2 linked regions of the Homo sapiens genome follow. The protein of the gene in region 2 purifies or fractionates together with the protein of the main gene of each other region. This does not show direct contact. Each region holds a gene or a part of one and is shown on either strand. Other genes may lie near its edges.

Region 1 (3,500 bases), on a different chromosome or scaffold from region 2:
TCCGGGGCAGGATGTCCATGAGTGTGGTGTCTGAGAGGTACACGATGATCTTCTGAGTCAGCGTCACCGCGGCCAGCAGCCCCGCCTCCTTACGGCTGTTCAGTCGGCTGGGGCCTGAGGCACTCCCTGGGGCCACCTAGAGCCACCGAGCAGATGAGGGCCGGGCAGCCCCACAGACCCCCTGGCACCAAGAGAGCCCGGGCCGGCCCTCAGGTCCTCAGCCTTCCCAGCCCCGGGCCTGCCAAACCAGCGACTGACCAGGTAGCTGATGTAGGGCAGGTACTGGTAGGTGAGGACAGGCTCCCCATACAGGCGGGCGATGTGGAGGAGGCAGCTGAGCACAGGCCCTGACACGATGTCGCCCAGGACCGGCCTCTTCTGGTAGATGTTGCCGGCGCTCAGCGGTGGGCTCTCGCCACTGCTCACTGTGAACTGCTGCCGAGTGGGTCCTGCCACGGAAGGGCCAGCAGCCCTGAGTCGCCAGTGGAGGGCCGGGGGTAGCCTGGCCCTGCAGGGCTGTGCTGGCCGCTTGAGCTCACTCTAGCTGGGGGCCCAGCCTGGCCCTACCCAAGGCTGGCACTTAGACTGGGACCCAGCACCTGGCCGGGGGGTGGTTTGAGGGAGGGGTGGGAAGGATCCCCGCCGGAGAGCGCTGAAGCTAGGCAGAGGGCCTGGGAGAAAGCCTCATCTCCAGCACTGACCGCAGGCCTCCTTACCAACATAACAAGACGTCAGCAGGCGGAGCAGGTTCCGGGCCACGTGGCGAGAGGCCACTGTGGGGCCGAGCTTGGCAGACAGCCAGCGGACCATCTTGCAGGCTGTATCTGCGGGGTGGGAGCAGGCCCTGAGCTCCTCAGATAACAGGGGCTCATCACCCCTCCCACCCCACCCCACGGCACCCCACTCAACCACCTGCGGCTGCAGCTCTGCCAAGAGCCCAGCCCGGGCCGGCTGTCCCACACCACCCCCTCCACGTAACAGCGGCAGAGGTGCCCAGGCCCTGGCCTGTGGGACTCTGGCTGCCGCAGGTTCCTCTCCACAGGCACGACCCGCAGGAAGTTAGCCTGCCCGTGGGTCTTCTGAAACTCCTTAACAAGGCCTGGCCCGGCCCTGGCCACCTTCCCTCTGGCCTCTCTTCCCTCCACTCCCTCGGTCTCGCCATAACGGCCTTTCCCTGCTTCTCTTCTTCTTCTTCTTCTTTTTTTTTTTTTTTGAGACAGAGTCTCGCACTGTTGCCCAGGCTGGAGTGCAATGGCACAATCTCAGTTCATTGCAACCTCCACCTTCCACCGCCCTGACTCTCCTCCTTGAACCTCCGGGTTCAAGCGATTCTCCTGCCTCAGCCTTCCAAATAGCTGAGATTACAGGCACCCTCCACCATGCCCAGCTAAGTTTTTGTATTTTTAGTAGAGATGGGGTTTCACCATATTGGCCAGGATGGTCTCAATCTCCTGACCTTGTGATCCATCCGCCTCAGCCTCCCAAAGTGCTGGGATTACAGGCGTGAAGCACCGCGCCCGGTCCCCCGCTTCTCTTCTTTAATGGAACATGACAGCCTCAGAGCCTCACACATGCTGTTCCCTCAGCCTTCAGACTTTCTTTTTGCCCATTTTTGTCTACCTTCTTCCTACTCCTCCTTGAACCTCAACTGTCTCTCCTTTTAAGGAAGCCTGCTCTGACCCTTGAAAACTAGATGTAAAAGCACCATTTTTTTTTTCTTTTTTGAGACGGAGTCCCGCTCTGTTGCCCAAGCTGCAGTGCAGTGGTGTGATCTCAGCTCACTGCAACCTCCACCTCCTGGGTTCAAGTAATTCTCCTGCCTCAGCCTCCTGAATAGCTGGGATTACAGGTGCCCGCCACCACGCCTGGCTAATTTTTGTATTTTTAGTAGAGATGGGGTTTCACCATGTTGGCCAGGCTGGTCTCGAACTCCTAACCTCAAGTGATCCTCCTGCCTCGGCCTCCCAAAGTGCTGGGATTAGAGGCGTGAGCCACGGCGCCCGGCCGAAAAGCTCCATGTTGCACTCCCTCCTAGGAATGCAGCCATGTTCTTTATCGCACTAACATAATACACTTGCTTAAGACTGTCTGCACTGCGGCATCTCGTCTGCTGGGTGTGAGCTCTGTGAAGGCAGGCCTACATTTGTGTTGCCGGTGGTCCTGGCTCGATCCACTGCTTGGCACAGAGTAGGTGCTCTGCCAGTGTGCAGGGAGAAGCAGGAGCTGTTTTTTTGTTTTGTTTTGTTTTTTTGAGATGGAGTCTCGCTCTGTCGCCCAGGCTGGAGTGCAGTGGTGCGATCTCGGCTCACTGCAAGCTCCGCCTCCCGGGTTCACGCCATTCTCCTGCCTCAGCCTTCCGAGTAGCTGGGACTACAGGTGCCTGCCCCCACGCCCGGCTATTTTTTTGTATTTTTAGTAGAGACGGGGTTTCACCTTGTTATTAGGATGGTCTCGATCTCCTGACCTTGTGATCCGCCCGCCTCAGCCTCCCAAAGTGCTGGGAATACAGGCGTGAACCACTGTGCTCGGCCAGCAGGAGGTGTTTTTGACCAACACCTCCCAGACCTGGGAACTTACCAAGGAGGATCTTCTGTTCTTTGCCTTCTGACTGCTCAGGCAGTGCCTCCTCCTCTTCTTCTCCATCTCCCCCACTGCCGCCGGCCACAACCGTCTCCATGGACAGCACCGTGTCAGACAGAGTGAGCTCAGATGCCCCGGTGACCTCCTCCTGCTCCCCCTCCTCCTCCTCTAGCACCACGCAGCTGTCCTCCTCCTCCTCTTCCTCCTCGGAGCCCTCGCTTTGCTTCAAGTCCTGGCTGCTGTCACCTGATCGAAGGCTGCTCTTGTCCACGGGGGCACCCCCCTCGTCTGGAGCCCGCTCCTCACCCAGGGAGGTCTCGCTGGTGCTGCTCTTGTCACTCAGCCGGCCCAGGCTCACAGCCTCAGCCTCCTGGGGCTGGGGAGACTCAGTCACATAGAGCCCGGCTTGGAAGTCCTCTGTCTCAGGGAGGTCAGCCTGGTCGTGGAAGCTGACGCCAGACGTGTAGTCTGGGAGCCCCAGGCCCGAGGAGGCAGGAGGCTCCCCATCCATGGGAATCTCCTCCCCAAAAGCACAGGAGCCAGGCCCGGCCCCGGGCAGCCCGCTCTCCTCCTCCTCAGCAGCCCCTGCCAGGTCCTTGCTCTCCTCCTGGGAGGCCTCTGCGCCCGCCAGCACCTGCAGGACATGGGGCAGCAGGTGAGTGAGAAATGCCTGCAGGCCCAGCCGCACCATCAGCTGGGCCACAAAGCAGTCCGTGTACAGGTAGAAGCGGCCGTGTAGCTGGCAGGGGCTCTCGTAGGCACCAATGAGCGGCTTCAGGAGGTACTTATTGGCATTTTTGGGGCCCAGTGCCTTGGCAACAGGCTCAAACAGATACCAGGCCGTGTACACAGCTGTGTGCTCCTCGGACATGAGTGAGAGCACGAAGGGCAGCAGGATCTCCAGGCCCTCAGGGGTGATG
Region 2 (2,923 bases):
ATTCCCTTCCATCCGTCTATCCACCTGCTTCCAACCAACAAACCAATCAACCAACCATCCATCCCTTCCAACCAAGAACCATCCACTCATCCATCCCTTTCCAACCATCCATCTTCTTCCAACCATCCATCCCCTTCCAACCAACCAACCAACCATCCATCCCCTTCTAACCACCTCATCCAACCAACCATCCATCCATCCCTTTCCAACCATCCATCCACCCATCCATCTCCTTCCCCCCATCCACCCTCTTCCAACTAACCATCTCCTTCTAACCACCCCTTCTGACCAATCAACCATCCATCCATCCCCTTCCAAGCAACCACCTCCTTCCAACCAACCATTCATCCATCCCCTTCCAACCAACCAACAAACCAATCATCTATCTATCCAACCATCTCCTTCCAACAAATCAACCATCGATTTATTCCCTTTCAACCAACCATCCATCCATTATCTTCTACCCATCCATCCAATTCTCTTACAACTGATAATTCGTTTTTCAGAAACAGATCTATTTTCCATCTGCTATATACCACCCCTTCCAACCACTCTCTCACTTATCTGCCCACCCCATCATACCCTTCCCAGCACTTTGGGAGGCTGAGGCAGAAGAACTGCTTGAGCCCAGGAGTTTGAGTCCAGCCTGGGTAACAAGTGAGATCCTGCCTCTTAAAAAAGAAAAAATGGCCAGGCGGGGTGGCCCACACCTGTAATCCCAACACTTTGGGAGGCCGAGGCAGGTGGATCACCTGAGGTCAGGAGTTCAAGACCAGCCTGACCAACATGGTGAAGCCTCGTCTCTACTAAAAATACAAAAATTAGCTGGGCGTGGTGACATGTGCCTGTAATCCCAAGTACTCGGGAGGTTGAGTCAGAAGAACCGCTTGAACCTGGGAGGCAGAGGTTGCAGTGAGCAGGGATTGCACCATTGCACTCTAGCCTGGGCAACAGAGCGAGACTCCTTCTCAAAAAAAAAGAAAAAGAAAAAAAATTAGCCAGGCATGGTGGTGTGTGCTTATAGCCCCAGCTACTTGGGAGGCGGAGGTGGGAGGATTGCTTGAGCCCAGGAGTTGAAGGCTGCAGTGAGCTGTGATGGTGCCACTGCACTCCAGCCTAGGTGGCAAAGTGAGACTCTAAAAAAAAAATCTCTTTTTTAACTAATAAGAAAACTAAAAGAAAAAAGAATCAGACCTTGACCATTATACTGAAGAAAAAAAATTGCAAGAAAATCCCAAATTATTGTTGGTCAGTGCACTGGTTTCCATGAACTGTTTCCCATTTTAATTTAATGGCCAAAGAGCTGCTATTAAATCAATCACATGCCTCACTGTTCAACACACCGCATCTTAGAATTACAAAACAGATTTGCTTACATCAGATGTAAAACTTGAACGGCATTTTGTATTTTATGTGCATTCTCAAGTGACCAGACTTAACCCACAAATAGAGCGCCGTGTGCTCCTCGATTGGACAACCAATGTAACATGGCCGGGAAAGGGCAGTTGCTGGAACCAGGGCGAGGGAGGAAGGGTCACTACGGTGTTTAGGCACTAAATGCCCCCAAAGTACAGGGAAGTGTTTGATTCCATCAAGAAAGCACCATTGATACTGAGCGCAGCGGACTAGGAAATCGCTAACGTGGTAAAAAAAAAAAAGCAAGAAACGAATGAGAGGGTAGATGGGTAGGGATTCATGCAGACTTCCCTGGAGGCCTCAGAGAACCCTGGGACACAATGAAGGTTGCAGAGCTGTCACAACTTGTAGCATCTGGGGCTGGGGTGGAGCGGGGGCAGGTTCTTGATCTGCCATGCTTGTCAAGACGATGAGCCAGCAGTTATCAGACACCAGCCCTGGCCCTGCCCAAGCGACCTAGGAAGCTTTTCTCCGAGCCATGGCTCTCTGTCCTTGCACACCATGTTGTCTTTCTGGCCCTTGAGTGGAATGGAAAAGGCCGTGTGCTCCCTGCTAGCCTGGGGATTCACCGGGCACGGCCTTGTCTGCTTGGGCAGCGTCCCCAGGCTGGCACTGCCTGATGCTGATGCCCCAGCCACACCTGCAAACTCTTCCCCCTTTCCCAGCAATGTCCCATGGGGTCTGGCTGGGCCCTAAAAAGCAGGATCTAGGGCACGTCATATCACTGCTGCTAACGACGATGGCTGGATCCCAGAGATCCACCCGGGGATCTCGGAAGGACACACACTCACCAATTTTTTGTCCATTTTTGCTTTGATATCTCTGGCGAGAGTGAAAAATGCCTGTGGAATAAGCACATTGTGAGTCCTTGGGATGGCAGGACCCTGAGTCCTCAGCCGCCCGTGTACAGCGGGTGTGGTGAGACAGCTTCCCAGGCGTGGGCCTCCCATTTGGCCCTTTGATGCCCGCCTCTGGCAGTGGGTTCATCTGGCCTGTCCGGCCCCAGCTCATCCTTCCCCGGCTCCCTCTGCCTCCCACCCACCCTTACTCTCTGACATCAACTCTCACTTCCGCAGAGCACCTTAGCATTGACGGGACTTTACGCATGTGCCACCTCCCCTAAGCCCTGTGAGATGGGGCGACACTCAGTTGGCCAGAGAGGAAACTGAGGCTCAGAGAGGCCAAGTGACTTGTCCAAAGGAACCCAGCAGTTAACCGACCAATCCAGAAGGATCTAGGAGTGCCCAGTTCTTTGTCTCTGACTCCTAGGTTCTGTCAGCTCTGGCCTCCCTTCTGATGGTCAGGGAAAAAGGCAAGCAGCTCTGTGGCCAAACAAGCTTCACTCGGAGTCCTTGCCTGGCAGGGCTGGGAGCGGGAGCAGGTTCATCTCCCAGCACAGCCAAGGGTTGAGCTGCTGTCACAGCCTTGAGGAGGGGACATACAGAGATGGCGGGAGGCGTGATCCCAACATACATCCCCATGATGTGGGAGGTTCTGGAGAGGAGAG

The links. Proteins that work in one complex are often made in the same cells at the same time.
Region 1: the proteins of RAB8A (region 2) and WDR81 purify together in Homo sapiens (co-immunoprecipitation; 2 studies listed by IntAct). This does not show direct contact.

Annotation. Positions count from the first base shown.
Region 1 is NC_000017.11:1,727,704-1,731,203, reverse strand, and holds part of WDR81 (WD repeat-containing protein 81), read right to left. Parts: coding exon 2,578-3,500; intron 825-2,577; coding exon 717-824; intron 450-716; coding exon 259-449; intron 137-258; coding exon 1-136. UniProt on the Homo sapiens protein: Functions as a negative regulator of the PI3 kinase/PI3K activity associated with endosomal membranes via BECN1, a core subunit of the PI3K complex.
Region 2 is NC_000019.10:16,128,889-16,131,811, reverse strand, and holds part of RAB8A (ras-related protein Rab-8A), read right to left. Parts: intron 2,259-2,923; coding exon 2,208-2,258; intron 1-2,207. UniProt on the Homo sapiens protein: The small GTPases Rab are key regulators of intracellular membrane trafficking, from the formation of transport vesicles to their fusion with membranes.